Linked DNA regions of Homo sapiens: region 2 is linked to region 1. Evidence: fine-mapped expression QTL. Tissue or cell type: monocytes after LPS. Region 1 holds a variant in brackets; the other region holds the start of a gene. All regions are shown on one strand. Distances are between the middles of the regions.

What was found. PIP is the estimated chance that this variant, and not a neighbour inherited with it, causes the effect.
Region 2: it holds the start of FZD7, and the variant in region 1 is fine-mapped to the expression of FZD7 in monocytes after LPS (Quach 2016, PIP 0.95).

The regions. Positions count from the first base shown.
Region 1 is chr2:201,898,718-201,906,823 of GRCh38, reverse strand. No RefSeq gene overlaps it. Among named protein-coding and RNA genes, the nearest start is that of CDK15, 96 kb to the right of the region's middle. RefSeq lists an enhancer at 4,361-5,084. The variant C/T (reference allele first, on the strand shown) is at 4,900.
Region 2 is chr2:202,029,484-202,037,589 of GRCh38, reverse strand. It overlaps FZD7 (frizzled class receptor 7), which reads right to left and starts at 3,735. Exons shown (of 1, transcript NM_003507.2): 1 at 1-3,735. The coding sequence starts at 2,942. The coding sequence ends at 1,218. RefSeq lists enhancers at 2,694-2,813, 2,011-2,851 and silencers at 3,414-3,493, 3,604-4,153.

The DNA.
Region 1 (8,106 bases):
AATTGACAATACTCAAAAGTGCCTCTGATGATTTTTGTTAAAATTCTTCTCAACTGCCCAGTTTCTCACCATGAAAAACCAAGCACTGTCCTAGTTAAGTATCACCCACCCAAGAACTTTTACAAATGTGAACTTGCTTTCCTACTTGGTCAGCATCCACTCCCAACCTAGAAATGTTATCCTCAATATTGAAATTAAAATGGCTTTCCTGGTTAGTTATCTCCCTTTTCTCACCTGTAAATGAGAACCTTTAAAAATGATTTCTGAGACACCTTCCAGTGGCCAAACTTGTGATTCTCTGTTTTGTAAGACAGACAAATGTGTGAGTCTCTCTGTGCCCCAAACAGCAAGCCATCATTCTAACCCAAATATTATTCATTTCATTCATTAGCTTAATAAATGCTTGGTGAATGAGCGACCGAATTAATTAATGAATGCCTACTGTGTTCCCCGCCCCAGGGAACACACGGATAAATAAGACAGCTTTTGCCTTTCAGCAGCTCACACTGAAGAGAGAAACAGATGTATAAACAGAAGTGCTGCTCAGTTTAACTTTCTTTTCAGTGAGTTTTATTTACTTATTATTATAATAAACATTTTAATTTATTTAGTGCCTAGTCTGTGTCAGGCATGCTGCTGGGTGTTATACAATGAATCTTCACACTCACTCTACAAAATAGGCATTATTGACCTTATTTTAAAGATTAGAAAACCAAGGTCAGCAAGTGACAGACTTGATCTGGTTGGCTCCTAATCACGTGTTTGTGGTATGTGATTACTAAGTCATATGTGTATGATATGAGATATATGATCTTTACTGATTCTGGAAAGAAAAGCAAAATGGCACCATGATTTGATCTCAGTGGAAGGCAGCAAGTGGTGGTGTTTCCAATTCATTCGCTTAACCAACATTGATTGAACATCTTCTCAATGTCCAACTTACACTAGACACTGGGGATAAAATTAAAAAGCTAAGCATTCTTCTAATCTCCTAACGCTGTCAGTTTTTAAAAAGGATAAAGAAGGCTGGATGTGGTGGCTCATGCCTGTAATCCCAGCACTTTGGGAGGCCGGGGCGGGCGGATCACCTGAGGTTGGGAGTTCAAGACCAGCCTGACCAACATGGAGAAACCCTGTCTCTACTAAAAATACAAAATTAGCCTGGCATGGAGGCACATGCCTGTAATCTCAGCTACTCGGGAGGCTGAGGCAGGGGAATCACTTGAACCCGGGAGGCAGAGGTTGCAGTGAGCTGAGATCATGCCATTGCACTCCAGCCTGGGCAACAAGAGTGAAACTCCATCTCAAAAAAAAAAAAAAAAGAAGAAGAAGAAGAAGAAAGAAGTGTCAACTAATAATTGCAATGAAATGGGACCAATACTATGATGTACATAGCAACAGAGTGCTCTGGGATCCCAGAGAAGAGAGCAACTCACCCTGGGCTGGAGGACCTTTCAGCTGAGCATTGAGGGATAAGAGTTCACCAGGCAGAGAGGATGGAAGAGGGCATTCTAAGCAGAGGGGACAGAAAGTGCAAAAAGCTAGGGATGTGAACAGAATACTGCATTCAGGGAATACTGAGAAATTCCACGTGGCTGAGTGTAGAGGAAGCGAGTGAGCCTGGAGGCTGATGGAGCCAGCTGGAGTACTCAGTTGGGGCCATGCTGAAGAGCTGGTTCAGAATTTATCCTATGACTGATAGAGATTTTTTTAGGGGGGATAGTGACATCATCTGATTTGTTTTTTAGCAAGAGAACACTGGCTTCCGGGTGGAGCAGTGATTATCAGCCCTGGCTACACATTAGAATAATATGGGGAGCTTAAAAAAGTCCTGTGCCTATGTTGCAGACCAGAGCAATTAAACAGGGACCCAGGCATCAGTATTTTCAAGATTATTCCAATGTGCAGCCAAGGTTGAGAACTACTGGTATGGGGAATACTCCAGAGAAAAAATTGGTGGCTGGAAGGCCAGTTAGGAGACTACAGGGCAAGACCTGCAGAATACAGCCAGGACAGTGTTCTCACTTTAGTGAATGCAGATTTACCAGGCTCCACCCCACTCAGTTCCAGATTCAGTAGGTCTGAGGTAAGCCCCGAGAATTTGCATTTCTAACCACTTCCCAGGGGATGCTGATGTTGCTGGTACAGGGACCTCACTTTGAGAACCACATAGCCTGGCACTGGCTATAGAAGAAAATGTACTGAAAGGTATTTAGGAGGCAGGGAGAGGGGAATCAGGCAATTGGGAGGATGGTGATGCTGTTAACCAAAACGAGAATGGAGAAGACCTTTTTTGCTTTGTTTTTGATGTAGGGAGAAGTTTGGACATGCAGAATTTGACATATTTGTTAGAAACATCTAGGTGAAAGCACCTCGTCAAGCAGCTGGAATTACTTTTCTAACCATCAGGAAAAAGTGAGGCGAATTCCGGGACAAATTAGGACCTTAAACTTACCCTAATTGAAGATAGATATGGACCTTTATATAGCTTGAGAATATATATTACTTATAATTAGAAACCTTTGACTGTGTGTGGTGGCTCATGCCTGTAATCCCACTACTTTGGGAGGCTGAGGCGGGCAGATTGCTTGAGCCCAGAAGTTCGAGACCAGCCTGGGCAACGTGGTGAAACCGCATCTCTATTTAAAAAAAAAAAATTAGCTGAGTATGGTGGCTTGAGCCTGTAGTCCCAGCTACTAGGGAGGTTGAGGCTGCAGTAAGCCATTATTGTGCCTCTGCACTCCAGCCTGGGTGACAGAGGAGACCATCTCAAAAAAACAAAAAACAAAAAAAAAGAAAAAGAAAAACACTTTTTTTTTCTGATGACATGTTTAATTAACAAAAGACTAATGGTGTTCTTTTAGCCACTGGAAAAAAAAAGATTGTATATATATATATATATATATATATATATATATATATATATATATATATATATATATATATACAGTTAACCCTTGAACAACATGGGTTTGAACTACATAGGTCCACTTATAAGTGGATTTTCTTCTGCCCCTTCCACCCTGAGACAGCAAGACCAACCCTTCCTCTTCCTTCTCAGCCCTTTGAATATGAAGACAGAAAGTTGAAGAACTTCATGATGATCCACTTCCATTTAATGAACAGTAAATATATTTTCTCTTCCTTATGATTTTCTTAATAACATTTTCTTTTCTCTAGCTTACTTTATTGTAAGAATACAGTATAAAACACATACATAAAATGTGTGTTAATTGGTTGTTTATCTTATTGGTAAGTCTTCTAGTCAACAGTAGATGATTATTAGGTAAGTTTTTTTTGAAGAGTCAAAAGTTACATGTGGGCCGGGTGTGGTGGCTGACTCCTGAAATCCTAGCACTTTGGGAGACCGAGGCGGGAGGCTCACTTGAGACCAGGAATTCAAGACCAGCCTGGACAACACAGCAAGATTCTGTCTCTGCAAAAAATTTAAAAAATTAGCCAGGTGTAGTTGCATGTGCTTGTAGTCCTAACTGTTTGGGAGGCTGAGGTGGGAGGATGGCTTAAGCCCAGGAGGTTAAGGCTGCAATGAGCTATGATTGTGCCACTGCACTCCAGCCTGTGTGACAGAGCTAGATCCTGTCTCAAAAGAAAAAAAAAAAAGTTACATGTGGATTTTCTACTGCACACAGGGTGGGGAGTGGGGGTAGGGGGTGGGGGGCTTGGCACCTCTAATCCCTGTGTTGTTCAAGGTCAACTGTATATATCTATATGTGCCATTAAACCTTGTTAAGTATACTTAGGTCAAAATGTTTAAACTGCTTCCACCAGCTTTTTGCATTCATCTTCATACATAAAAGAAAATAAAACTTTTATTTGTCATATTGATAGTTGTCATGCTTTCTTTTTATTTTATTTTACTTTTATTTTTTATTTTATTTTATTATTTTTTTTTTGAGAGGGAGTCTCGTTCTGTTGCCCAGGTTGGAGTGCAGTGATGCGATCTCAGCTCACTGCCAGCTCCGCCTCCAGGGTTCATGCCATTCTCCTGCCTCAGCCTCCCGAGTAGCTGGGACTACAGGCACCTGCCACCATGCCCGGCTAATTTTTTTGTATTTTTAATAGAGACAGGGTTTCACCGTGTTAGCCAGGATGGTCTCAATCTCCTGACCTCGTGATCCGCCTGCCTCAGACTCCCAAAGTGCTGGGATTACAGGCGTGAGCCACCACCGCGCCCGGCTGCTTTCCTCTTATTAATGAGAAGAGTCCAAGGTTCCCCCAGTGGTAAAACACAGGGGTTGGGTTTTGTGCCTGCTGAGGACCCATCCACTTCCAGCATTCCATGAATTTGCCTTTGATTCTCTGTCAGTTTTGCCGGAAAGATCTCCGAGAGTTGGTAACACTGGAAAAGTTTTTTTGCCCATTTTAACTTTTTTAGAGTTCATTTCTATCAAAAACTAGTAAGGCCCTATTGTCAGAGCTATGTCTTAAAGGTATTTCCAAACTTGTTTCTTATTCTTCACTTGACAAGTGCTGTCACAGGGCTCCATCACTCCTAGAGTAACAGCTACCAATAAACAGAAAATTATTTCCAACCAGCTAACATGCTGTTTACTTTCCAGAAAAATTGCACTTTCCAATCTGACAGTTGATCAAGGGGTATCCCGCTGCTGTCAGCAGGAAGAAATGTTTAAACACAGAGATGGGAGTTTAAACATTTTCTCATTATCACAGAATAAGGGGAAAAAACACAAATAAATAAATAAGTAAAAATGGCATCCAGACTCTGTAACCCCCTGCTGGGAGCGTAATGAAGCTGGGTCATGTGACCTGAAGGAGTGGGCTTTTATCTCTGGCCCCAGTATCGTTACTCAAGTGACACCTGTCACATGACCCAACTTCGGTCTTTTATCTGCCTTCCCCAGGCACTCTTTTGGGGAA[C/T]TGTCTTTTCCAGAGATGCGTGGCCCATTGCAGCCATTGTAGTGGGCGCTGTTCGTGTGATTAGCCTGGCCTTTTGTGTTTCCTGCCTCGAATCCGCTAGATCTTTCTCTAAACATTGAAACATAAAAAAATTACAAAATACCTACAAAACTGAAACAAAAACCAAAAAGATCTCAAAGCGGAAAAAATCAGTGCCATTATTTTATTCATACAAGTTTTCAGGAATTGGAATTGGTCTGCAGAGAAAAATATCTATATTTTAAAATTCTGATCCTCATTTTTTAATCTGTTCTTCAGAGTAGGAGGTTAGTGAAACCCAGGGTTCCTGCAGCTCTAGCCAGGCTTACCAAATGGAGCCACAGTCACAAACAGAACCAGAATCAGGTGTTGTCGACTTTCCCTCCCAACGTCATCCCCAAACCCAAACTCACTGTTAAATCTAAGTTGGTTCCATATTGTCCTCCTGCCTTCCCTTCCAGGTCAAACCCCATGGGTATTAGCATATTTAATTCCCCTGTTCCTTTTTTTTCATTTACTATCACCACCACCACCTAATTTTTATAGTGCTTACTATATGCCAGGCACTGTTTAAAATATTTTATTACTTATTATTTTTTGAGATGGAGTCTTGCTCTGTCACCCAGGCTGGAGTGCAATGGTGTGATGTTGGCTCACTGCAACCTCCACTTCCTGGGTTCAAGCGATTTTTGTGCCTTAGCCTCCCGAGTAGCTGGGATTACAGGTGTGTGCCACCACACCTGGCTAATTTTTGTATTTTTAGTAGAGACCAAGTTTCACCATGTTGGCCAGGCTGGTCTCGAACTCCCGACCTCAGGAGATCCTCCTGCCTCGACTTCCCAAAGTGCTGGCTTACAGGCGTGAGCCACAGCGCCCGGCCCAATTTATTTATTTTTTTTTGAGACAGGGTCTTGCTCTATCACATAGGCTAGAGTCCAGTGGCACCACCACAGCTCACAGCAATCTCTGAACTCCTGGGCTCAAGCGATCCTCCCACCTTAGCCTGCCAAGCAGCTGGGATTACAAGCGTGTGCCACCATGCCCAGCTAATTTTTTAATTTCTTGTAGAGATGAGGTCTCACTATGTTGTCCAGGCTAGTCTCAAACTCTTGGCCTCAAGTGATCCTCCCACTTTGGCTTCTCAAGGTGCTGGGATTACAGGCATGAGCCACCGTGCCCAGCTTCTTTAAGATATTTTAAATGTATTAATTCGTTTAATCCTCACCACCAACTCTATGAGTCAGATACTATTATCATTCCTATCTTACAAAGGAGGAAGTGAAAGCAGAGAAGGGAGGTAACTTGCCCCCAAATCACACAGTTAGTAAGTGGCAGAGACAGATTTGAACAAATGCCTGATTGTGTACCACCTGGCTCCTGATTCTGTACACCTGCTCAATGGTTTGATTATGTTTTATCTGTGTACTTTACCTCTTCTCCAGTCTCAGAGGACATGCATCTCTTACCCTCTCCCAGGCAAACATAGACTCTCAATCTCCTTTCCTTCAATCTCTGAATCTTCACTGATTCATTTATTCCACAAGTGTTTCCTAAGCACTGACTATGTGTCATGCACAATTCTAGGTGCTTGGGATATATCAGTAACAGAACATATCAAAATCATTTTTCCTGTGGGGCTTGATTTCTACTGTGGGAGATAGAAAACATAACAAATGTAATACACTGGTACATCATATATGAAAAAACAAAGCCAAAACAGAACAGGACAAGGGAGAAAAAGTGTGCTGGGTTGCAGTTGAAACATGGTAGAGTTCATTCATTCAAAAGACATTTACTGAGACTCTGCTACATGCAAGACAGTGTTCAAGGTGCTTGAGATACGCTAGTGGATAAAACAGATTCCTAGGCCGGAGGTGGTGGCTCACCCAAAGGCAGGTGGATCACCTGAGGTCAGGAGTTCAAGACCAGCCTGGCCAACATGATGAAACCCCATCTCTACTAAAAATACAAAAATTAGCCGGGCATGGTGGCATCCATCTGTAATCCCACCTACTTAGGAGGCTGAGGCAGGAGAATTACTTGAACCTGGGAGGCGGAGGTTGCAGTGAGCTGAGATCACACCATTGCACTCCAGCCTGTGTGAGAAGAGCAAAACTACATCTCAAAAAAGTATAAATAAAATAAAATAAAACATATTCTTATCTTCATGGAACTTACATTCCAGCTGGGGGGAGAGAGAAACAATAAATATCATAAATTGGTAAATCTATTATGGAGCACGACATCAAGTGATAAGATGCTTTAGAAAAATAGGGCAGGTTAAGGGGGATTGGTGTACAGGAGGCTTCCAAATTAGTGGCCCATTAAATAGGGTGGCCAGGATAGGCTTCACCAACCGGTGACATTTGGACAAAGGCTTGAAGTAGGCAAGGGAGTTGGCTGTGTGGATATTTGGAAGAGGGGTTCTAGGCAGAGGCACGAGCCAGGCAAAAACTCGAGAAGGGATCATGCCTGGTATTTTTGGATTATCTACTGATTCTTCAACTTCTTTCTCTCTTTTTTCTTCAGCTCATAAAAATGTATAATCTCTCCTATGCCAAACAAAACACGAAACCTGTCAGTCCTTCCGTGCTCTAGTGAGTCCTCCATCTTTCCTATCCTTTTATGCAACAATTTCTGAAAGATATTCCCTCATTCTGCTTTCTTACCTGTCACTGTCTCTTTAATCCATCGTGCTCTTCTATGACCACCATGCCATGGAAGCTGCTCCCTTGTAGGTTACCAAGGACAGGTAGCCTCCCAAATCCACGGCCTTTCTTTGTTCACACCTTCCTGGTGGTTTTCTCTGCAGGCTACTCAATCTTGGAACGCTCTTGTTAACTTCTGTCACACAGAATGGTTCTAGTCCCTCCCCTCTCCGCACAACACCTCCCCTTTCCACCAATTTCTAACCACTAATGCTTTGTCTCCTTTGTTGATTCTTCCATCTCCAAGCTCTAAATACTGCTTAAATAAAGCTAATATTGAGCTTTCCCAAGGTACAATTCTTGTGCTTCCTCTCTTCAGATATGTTCTCTTGGGCAGTCACATCCTGGGGACTTCAAGGACCATCAGTGTGTAGATGACACTCACTCACAGCCATCTCCACGTCCTGTTCCCAGGCCGGCGGTTCTAATCATCTTATGCACACCAGTACCTCAAACTCAAGATGTCTAGAAGTGAGCTCAT
Region 2 (8,106 bases), 130 kb before region 1:
AATAGAAAAGAAACCTAAATATAGGCTTATAGCAAGAAAAAGTAAATGAAGGGAGAGATTTCCCTGAATATTTTAACATAGTCTGTTGGATCATGTGTTCCGAATTAAATTTATTTAAAACAGACAACAAAACCTCTTACATTTCCTTTAGCGAAGTCAGAACCTCTGGCTTAACGGTGTGTGACAGCACACTGCTCTTCACTTTTCCTTAAAAAGGAATGTTTATCTCAACCAAATTAACAACCAACGGGAAACCTCAGATTTGCGCTGCTTTGCCTATAAAAGTTGCTTTCGTCACAGTTATGCCTTTCCACAGGGAGACACTTTTGTTTCCTCTTTTGTCTCTTACAACAAAGACAAGGGGAAAAATGCATTCCTGTTTTGAAAAGCAACAAGTCATCACTTCTTTTCAGGGTATTAGACCAAATAAAACACCCGTCTTTCTGCCTCCTGCCTTCCCCAGAAAATGAAAAAGTAGCAAAAATACCTACTCCACGTCTCCTTGGCCTTATCTCAAAATGTTATCATCATTTCTTTTGCATCCTCACATTAGGATTCTAGCAGGCAGGCCTCCCAAGACTTCCAAATGCTTATTTTACAAGACCTGAAAGCAGTACGGGAGGAAAAACAGGCGGGAGGGGGCAGGGGAGGAGAGACCGTAATGTCTGACCCTGGAAATTAACCCATCTGGGCTCCAGTTTGGCCCCAGTGAAAAGAGATTATGGTTTGACCACTGCTTGACAAGCACACCGCAGGAGGCCCTCCCTCTTTCCAACAAAGCAGCCACCGCAGACAGGGCTGTACCTTTCCCGGGGCCTCACAGGGGTCTGGACAGGCCACTCGCCCTGCAGCAGGGGGATCGCTCACAGTCCCCGTTCAGCCTCGGAGCCGGGAGAAACTCACAGCAGTCTCTGCTGGTCTCAACCTTCTATTAGGCACAAGCTGGCCCGTACCTTTGACGATTCACATCGCCGTTATCATCATCTTCCTGCAAGTCTTTGCCTGAAATCTTTTCATCCAAACCGCTTTCCACCCAGGTCTTCTTTTCCAAATCACCCCTCGCCCCAAATCTGCAAAGAACTTCTCACTTCCAGGTCACTTCTCAGTAGAGGGGGAGAAAGTTACAGAAACAGGCCCCCACCCAGCAGTTCTTTTCCCTACCGTGCCTCTCCTCTTGCAAGAGGGCTGGGGTGGGAAAGGTGGGGAGGGGCCGGGGCTCATACCGCAGTCTCCCCCTTGCTGCTGTGGCTAAGTCTGTGGTAGAAGCGGCGCCACGACTGCAGGGTCTTGCCCGACCAGATCCAGAAGCCAGTGGTGATGCCGACGATCATGGTCATCAGGTACTTGATCATGAAGACGGTGAAGTCGGGGCTCATGGGCGGGAAGTGGCCGGGCGGGCAGGGCACGGCATAGCTCTTGCACGTCTGCAGGAGCCAGGTGCGCTCCCAGTGCTCGCGGAAGGCCTGCTCGTAGAAGTAGCAGGCCAGGACGATGGTGGCGGGCACTGTGTAGAGCACGCTGAAGACGCCGATGCGCACCATGAGCTTCTCCAGCTTCTCGGTCTTGGTGCCGTCGTGTTTCATGATGGTGCGGATACGGAAGAGGGACACGAAGCCGGCCAGCAAGAAGGACGTGCCTATGAAGAGGTAGACGAACAGAGGCGCCAGCACGAAGCCCCGCAGCGCGTCCACACTGGAGAGGCCAACGTAGCACACCCCGCTCAGCAGGTCCCCGTCTACCTGGCCCATGGCCAGGATAGTGATGGTCTTGACGGCGGGCACGGCCCACGCGGCCAGGTGGAAGTACTGCGAGTTGGCCTCGATGGCCTCGTGGCCCCACTTCATGCCGGCCGCCAGGAACCAAGTGAGAGACAGAATGACCCACCAGATGGAGCTGGCCATGCCGAAGAAGTAGAGCACCATGAAGAGGATGGTGCAGCCCTCCTTCTTGGTGCCCTGCGCCACCGTGCGGTAGCCATCGTCCGAGAAGCGCTCCACGCACACGGCGCGGTCCTCTAGAAGGAAGCCGGCCACGTGCGCCACGGCCACCATGAAGTAGCAGCCCGACAGGAAGATGATGGGCCGCTCTGGGTAGCTGAAGCGCCGCATGTCCACCAGGTAGGTGAGAACGGTAAAGAGCGTCGAGGCGCAGCACAGCACGGACCACACGCCCACCCAGAGGCGGGCGAAGCGCCTCTCCTCCTCCTTAAAGTACATCAGGCCGTTGGCACGGCCCGGTTCGCACGGGGCGCCACAATCGCGCTCACCCAGGAAGCGGTAGCCCAGGTACGGGGGCACCTTGAGCTGACGGGGGCATGAGAAGGGGAAGGCGGGACGCCCCCTGCCATCTGAGGCCCCCGGGGGCAGCGCGGTGAAGGGCAGGTCCGGCAGGTAGGGCGCGGTAGGGTAGGCAGTGGGGCCGCCGCCTGGGCCCCCGGAGCCGTCCGACGTGTTCTGGCCCACGCAGATCTCGCCCGCACCGTGCACCGGGAAGTTCTCGCAGCGCAGCCGCTCGGGCCACTGGAAGCCGAACTTGTTCATGAGCGCCTCGCAGCCCTGGCGGGCGCGCTCGCACAGAGAACGACACGGCGGGATGGCCTGATCGAGCACGGTGCACACGGGCGCATACATGGAGCATAAGAAAAAGCGGAGTTCGGGAGAACACTGCACCTTCACCAGCGGGTAGAACTGGTGCACCTCGAGGCCCGCGTCCTCTTGGTTCGTGTGGCCCAGCAGGTTGGGCAGGATGGTCTGGTTGTAGGCGATGTCCGTGCACAGCGGGATGGAGATGGGCTGGCAGAAGCCGTGGTCCGGCACGGAGATGCCCTTCTCTCCGTGGTACGGCTGCGCCCCGGCGCCCGCGGACAGTGCGCCCAGCAGCGCCAGCACCAGGGCACAGAGGCCCAGGGACGAAAGCGGAGCGGCCGCGCCGGGGTCCCGCATCGCCGGCCGCGAGTGCAGCGGTGCTCTCAGCCTGAGGAGTGCGACGAGGCGGTTGGGAGAGGCTTGGATGCGGGGAGGCGCCGCCGCGCCCGACGCATGAGAGTCCTCACGGCGCCGGGGCCGGGCCGTGGGCGGCGTGGAGCAAAGGGCGCTGCCGCCTGGGTGCCCGCGCCGCGAAGGCGCCGCAGACGCCGCCGCCCTGCACTCGCAGGGCCGCCGGGGGCCCAAAACTCGTCAGCCTGGGTTGGGGGCGCCGAGGAGGGCCGCCTCGCTCTCCCCGCGGGGACGTAACGGTGCGGCTCCCTCCGCCGCGAGGAGCAACAAGCGGCTCCGGCACCCTTCAAAGTTTGCCCAAGACTCTGGACCCCCGGCGCACCGCAGCGCGCACGCCCCCCGCGCCTGGTCCGGTCCCCGCTAGGAGAACCCCTGCCGCCGCCGCTCGCTCGCCCCGGCCGCCGCCTCCGCGGTGCTGCCCCGCCTCCTGGCCTCGAGGCTCCGCTCGTCGCCGCCTCCTTCGCCTCCTCCTCCACACCCCGCTCCTTCTTCAGCCCCAAAAGCTCGGCCCCAAGTTTCAGCCAAACGGCCGGCTCTTGCTGAGTCCGATCTCGGCCCCGGAGTCGGGAGCACGGCGAGTTCTTTTTGGAAACCCAGTCACACTGCGTCCGAAACCGCGAGGCGCTCGTGCCCGCGGCCTGGCCCCGGCCCCTCCAGCCCCTCGCAGCCCCAGCAGCGAGTCCTGGCGCCCGCCGCCGCCGCCGCCGCCGCCGCCCGCCGGGAGTGAGCGCCGACTAACGCCTCGGAGTCGCGCTGGTCGCCAGAAGAAGCGTCGGGCTCGCGGGGTTCCGGGCCGGCCCGCCCCCTCCCGTCCCCTCCCGTCCCCTCCCCTCCCCTCCCCTCCCCCCCCATTCACAAACCACTCCGGGGGCGGCCCCAGGCCCCGGCGGCCCAATGGCGGCCTTTGTTTTTTCGGTGGCCGCCTTCGGATTGGGCGGAAGTCGGAAGGGGCGGGCGCGGGAGTGGCGGAGGCGGTGTCCGCGGCGCTCTGGGCGGATTCCTGAGGGGAGGGGCGGGGGACTGGGAGGGAAAAGTTCGGAAAAACTTTTACCCTGAATTCGCTCAGGGACGAAAACGCGCAGAAAGGGAATTTGCTTCAAAGATTTGTTCCTCTTCCTGGTGCACTCAGATGCGCATTCCTGAGCAGGGGCGCCTTCGCCAGCGGCGTTTGAGGGGAGCGAGGACCGCGCAGCGCCCCTTCGGGGAGAGACGTGACCAGGAGTCGCGTTAGGACTGCAAAGGCTGGCTCTGGCGGGGCTTTCGGGTCGCCGGGTCCTCAATGTGGGGTTTGGGACGGGACGAGAAGGGGGTGCGCCTTGCGGATCGCCTCTTTCCCCCCGGACCCAAAGAGTCCACGCGAGGCCACAGTCCCCTCTCCCCTCCCCCGAGTTATAAAAAGGAGGAGGGGCCGCCTCCGAGGAGAAACCCGAGTCGGGCGGAGGGGGCCGAGTGACGGCGGGAGGAAGGACCCCTCGGAGGAAGGGCCCGAAGCAGGGAGAGCGGGGAACCCGGGCTCAGGCCACCCCGCCCGCGCGCACGGCCTGGAGTCTGGGGAACTGGGGTGACTCTAGCGAGGTTTTAAGGAAACGAAGACGGCGTTGGGGAGACTGGTTCTAGAAGTAACCTGAGACCGAGCGCCCAGGAACACTCTGTACGACGCGCCGGGCGTCTCAGTGGCCCCGTGTGCCTTGGTTCTGCGGCGTGTGCCCTTTCGGGATCCCATCTTCGTTGCAGAAGCAACCATTTGATCCTCCATTTAGAATCTGCGTAGGAATGTTTTAATGCGTCTTAGAAACCAGGCTAATTAAAGAGTTTTCAAAACACAAAGCGGGGTTATCCTCGTTCTCGGGTAGCGTTTTCTGATTGGCAAACGTTCTTTTGTTCTCGGTTAAATCTTCGTCTTGAGCCAGGCGCTGGGCGCTCGCGCGCGCTCTCTGGTTACTCCTGCGGGGGTCATAAGTCACCAGGGGGCCTCTCCCCTCTCTCCGGGCTGCCAGGAATATCAGGAATTCCCATGCAGGAAAGTGACATGTTGAGAAGGAAAAGAAAAAAATCAATCAATCAATCTCTCCTCCTCCTCCTCTTTCCTCTGTCTCTCTCTCTCTCTCTCTCACACACACACACACACACACACACACACAGCAATCCTGTGCTTTAAAAAACGTTATTCCTGGCGGAGCCCTTCTGCCTCAGTCCCGGGTGCTGGAGCTCTGAGCGATTTCTGATCAGGTTGAACCTTGGCAGAAGTTGCTGTCTCTGCTGCCTCCCGTGCGCTTCTTCTACAGCAGGAAAAAAACTCATTCTGAAATCGAAGACAATTAATTGGGTTCCCTTCCATGGGAGACTTTGGCTTTCTCTGTTTTTCTTTATTTATTTTCGATCACTGAAGATTGCTGGGAATCGTTCTTTCCGATTCACGGTTCTTTGTCCTTCCCCACTCCTGTTAATAGGTCGAAAGGGCGGAAGGAAGCCTTTGGGCCAAGGCAGAGTGTTAGACTGATCACATCCTCCATCCGGCCCTCAGCGGGAGTCGCCTTCTTCCTCCCAAGCATCAGTTTCGCCCTCCCTCCCGGACCCCCCCACCCTTTTTTTCCTTTTCTTTGGGACATGTGCTGAAGGTAATACGATACCTGCTTTAAAAATGTTTCATTCCTTCTTTGTGTTTTTAAAAGGGCCCCCCTTTTCTTTCTAAATTATTATTTCTATTACCTAACATCGGGGAGTGTTGATCTTCGGTTGAAATATGTTGCTTAAAGACAATGCTGCTGCTTTGCTTTGTCATTTAAAGTATGTGTGGTGGGGGGTTAGATTCCTTTTTTCTCTCCATGAGCTTCAGGATATCCTCCTTTTCTAAATCAAAATTTCATGCTTATTCATCAGGCCACTGATCTAAGTCATCTTTGCTTATTGAGGAAGAAATACCAAGCACTGTCATCAAATAAAATGAAAACTGACAGGATAAAATACTGTCTCAACTGCAACTAAAACCAATTTAGCTGATGAGCTTCTACTCTCCATATTATAACCCCAGACAGCTCCGATGTTAGGCAATAGGGATAATAATTTAGAAAAAAAAAACCCTTAAATACAAGGGACGAATGAAAAGCAGTCTATGCCTAAGATGCAGAAAACCCATCCCAGATGGAAAGTGTTACAGATGTGAGTCCTCTTGCTCTGTCCCAGGCAGACAAGTCCAAAAAGCAGAGAAGCAAAGCCAATTTTTAAAACAGATTGTTTTGTTTTTAAAGATTTTTAAAAAATCAATCCAAAATTATTCTCCAAAATAAGAATTTGCTGTGAGAGGGGGAGCTCTGGCTTTCCAAGCCTTGCCTGGTATAGAATGCTATGATTTTAAGGAGCCAAGTCATAGAAGATCAGAAAAAGTAAGTTCACAATGTAAGGGTCTAATCATGTTTTAGGTTCTATGACAAATGTAGTGACATCTGTTTATATTCTGTCCAGGATCATTTTAATTTTGCTTCCTAAGCAACCCCTTCCACACCCAACTCCCAAAGCCACTAACTGGTATCTTCTTGGGAGAGCCAAGGGTGGAAAATTTTGTGACTATCTGCTGCAAAATTTCCAATTGTCCCTGCCCTTTAAAATAACAAAGGCCTTTATTTCTTCACATGTAGTCATATGGTCCCACAGAAAAGTGATGCTATTCATTGGCTCCAGTTTTGCAAATGCTACTTATTTTGGCCAAGTCCCAGGTTTATCTAGTTGAATTACATTCTGATGTCAGGCCAGATTTGAAAATGGCCGTCTTCGTGTGCCCCAGTCCTGCGGTTGTAATGAAGCTCCTGCTGCAAGAATTACTCATGCAAGACTAGAAAGGGCAAATTTTAGCACATGCTTTCCTTTCTGGCCTCTCTTTTACTAGACAATTTTGACGTAATAACATGGAGAACTTGGAATTTCCAGTTGTCAGGTTGTCATTGACTTGTGTTCATTTTTGTTGGGGTGTTGGATCATTCCAAAAATGGGGATATTCTTATCCCTAAAACCCTTTCAAGGGTTATGAAAGTTAGAGATATCTAAGTTGCAGAAGAGGAGGACCATGCAATAATCATGTTAGATGTGCAGGCCGCATCTTGTAGAGATGATTTATATGGTAAATTCAGTCACTGAGTCTGACCAACACTTCCCTTGTCGATTGAGAGGGGTTTTTGTGTTTCTGTTTTTGTTTTTTGAGACAGAATCTCACCCTGCCACTCAGGCTGGAGTGAGGTAGAGTGATCATAGCTCACTGCAGCCTCGAACTCCTGGTCTTAAGTGATCCTTCTACCTCAGCTTCCAGAAAAGCTGGGACTACAGGTGAGCGTCACCACACTGGGCTAGTTGAGAGTTTTATACGTTGACTATTGTATAATCAGGGTGTTGATCAGGGCTGTGATGGCCTCAAGGCTCAATTGGAGGAGCCACTTCCAAGCTCACTCATGTGGCTGTTGGCAGGCCTCAGGCTGTCACTAGCTGTTGGCCAGAGACATCAGTTCCTTGCAATGTGGACCTCTCATAAGGCCACTCGTAATATGGCACCTTGCTTCCCTCACAGCAAAGGCTCAGAGAGTCTCTCCCTCTGAGAGAGGGAGGGAAAGAAGGAGGGAGAGAGAGAGAGCAGGAAAAAATGACGATCAAGATAGAAGTCACAGTCTTTCTGTAACCTAATCTGGGAAGTGACATCCTACCACTTTTGCCATATACTATTCACTAGAAGCAAGTCACCAGATCTTCCCACACTCAAGGGGTAGCAGGGATTATACATAGAGTGTGCAAAACCATTGGGGGATCATAGGGAGCCATTTGAGAGGCTGCTTACTACAAGGATTATTCATTTATTCATTTCCAGAGTATTATGAAGATGAGGCAACAGAGAGAAACGACTCTTGGAGCTCTGTCCTTGGGGAGTCCAGAGAAAGGGTCACAGATAAAAATACAGTGTTGACTGGTTATGTTGCCACTTGCAGATGTTAGAGTCAGAACAGAACCCTAACTCTGGCCAACCAGTTTTCCAAACACATGTCCCTGGGAGAGAAAACATGGAGGAAGTTGATTAATAAAAGACCATGAACAGTTCTGGAAAAAATGTCCAAATGTAGAGCGCTGGCCA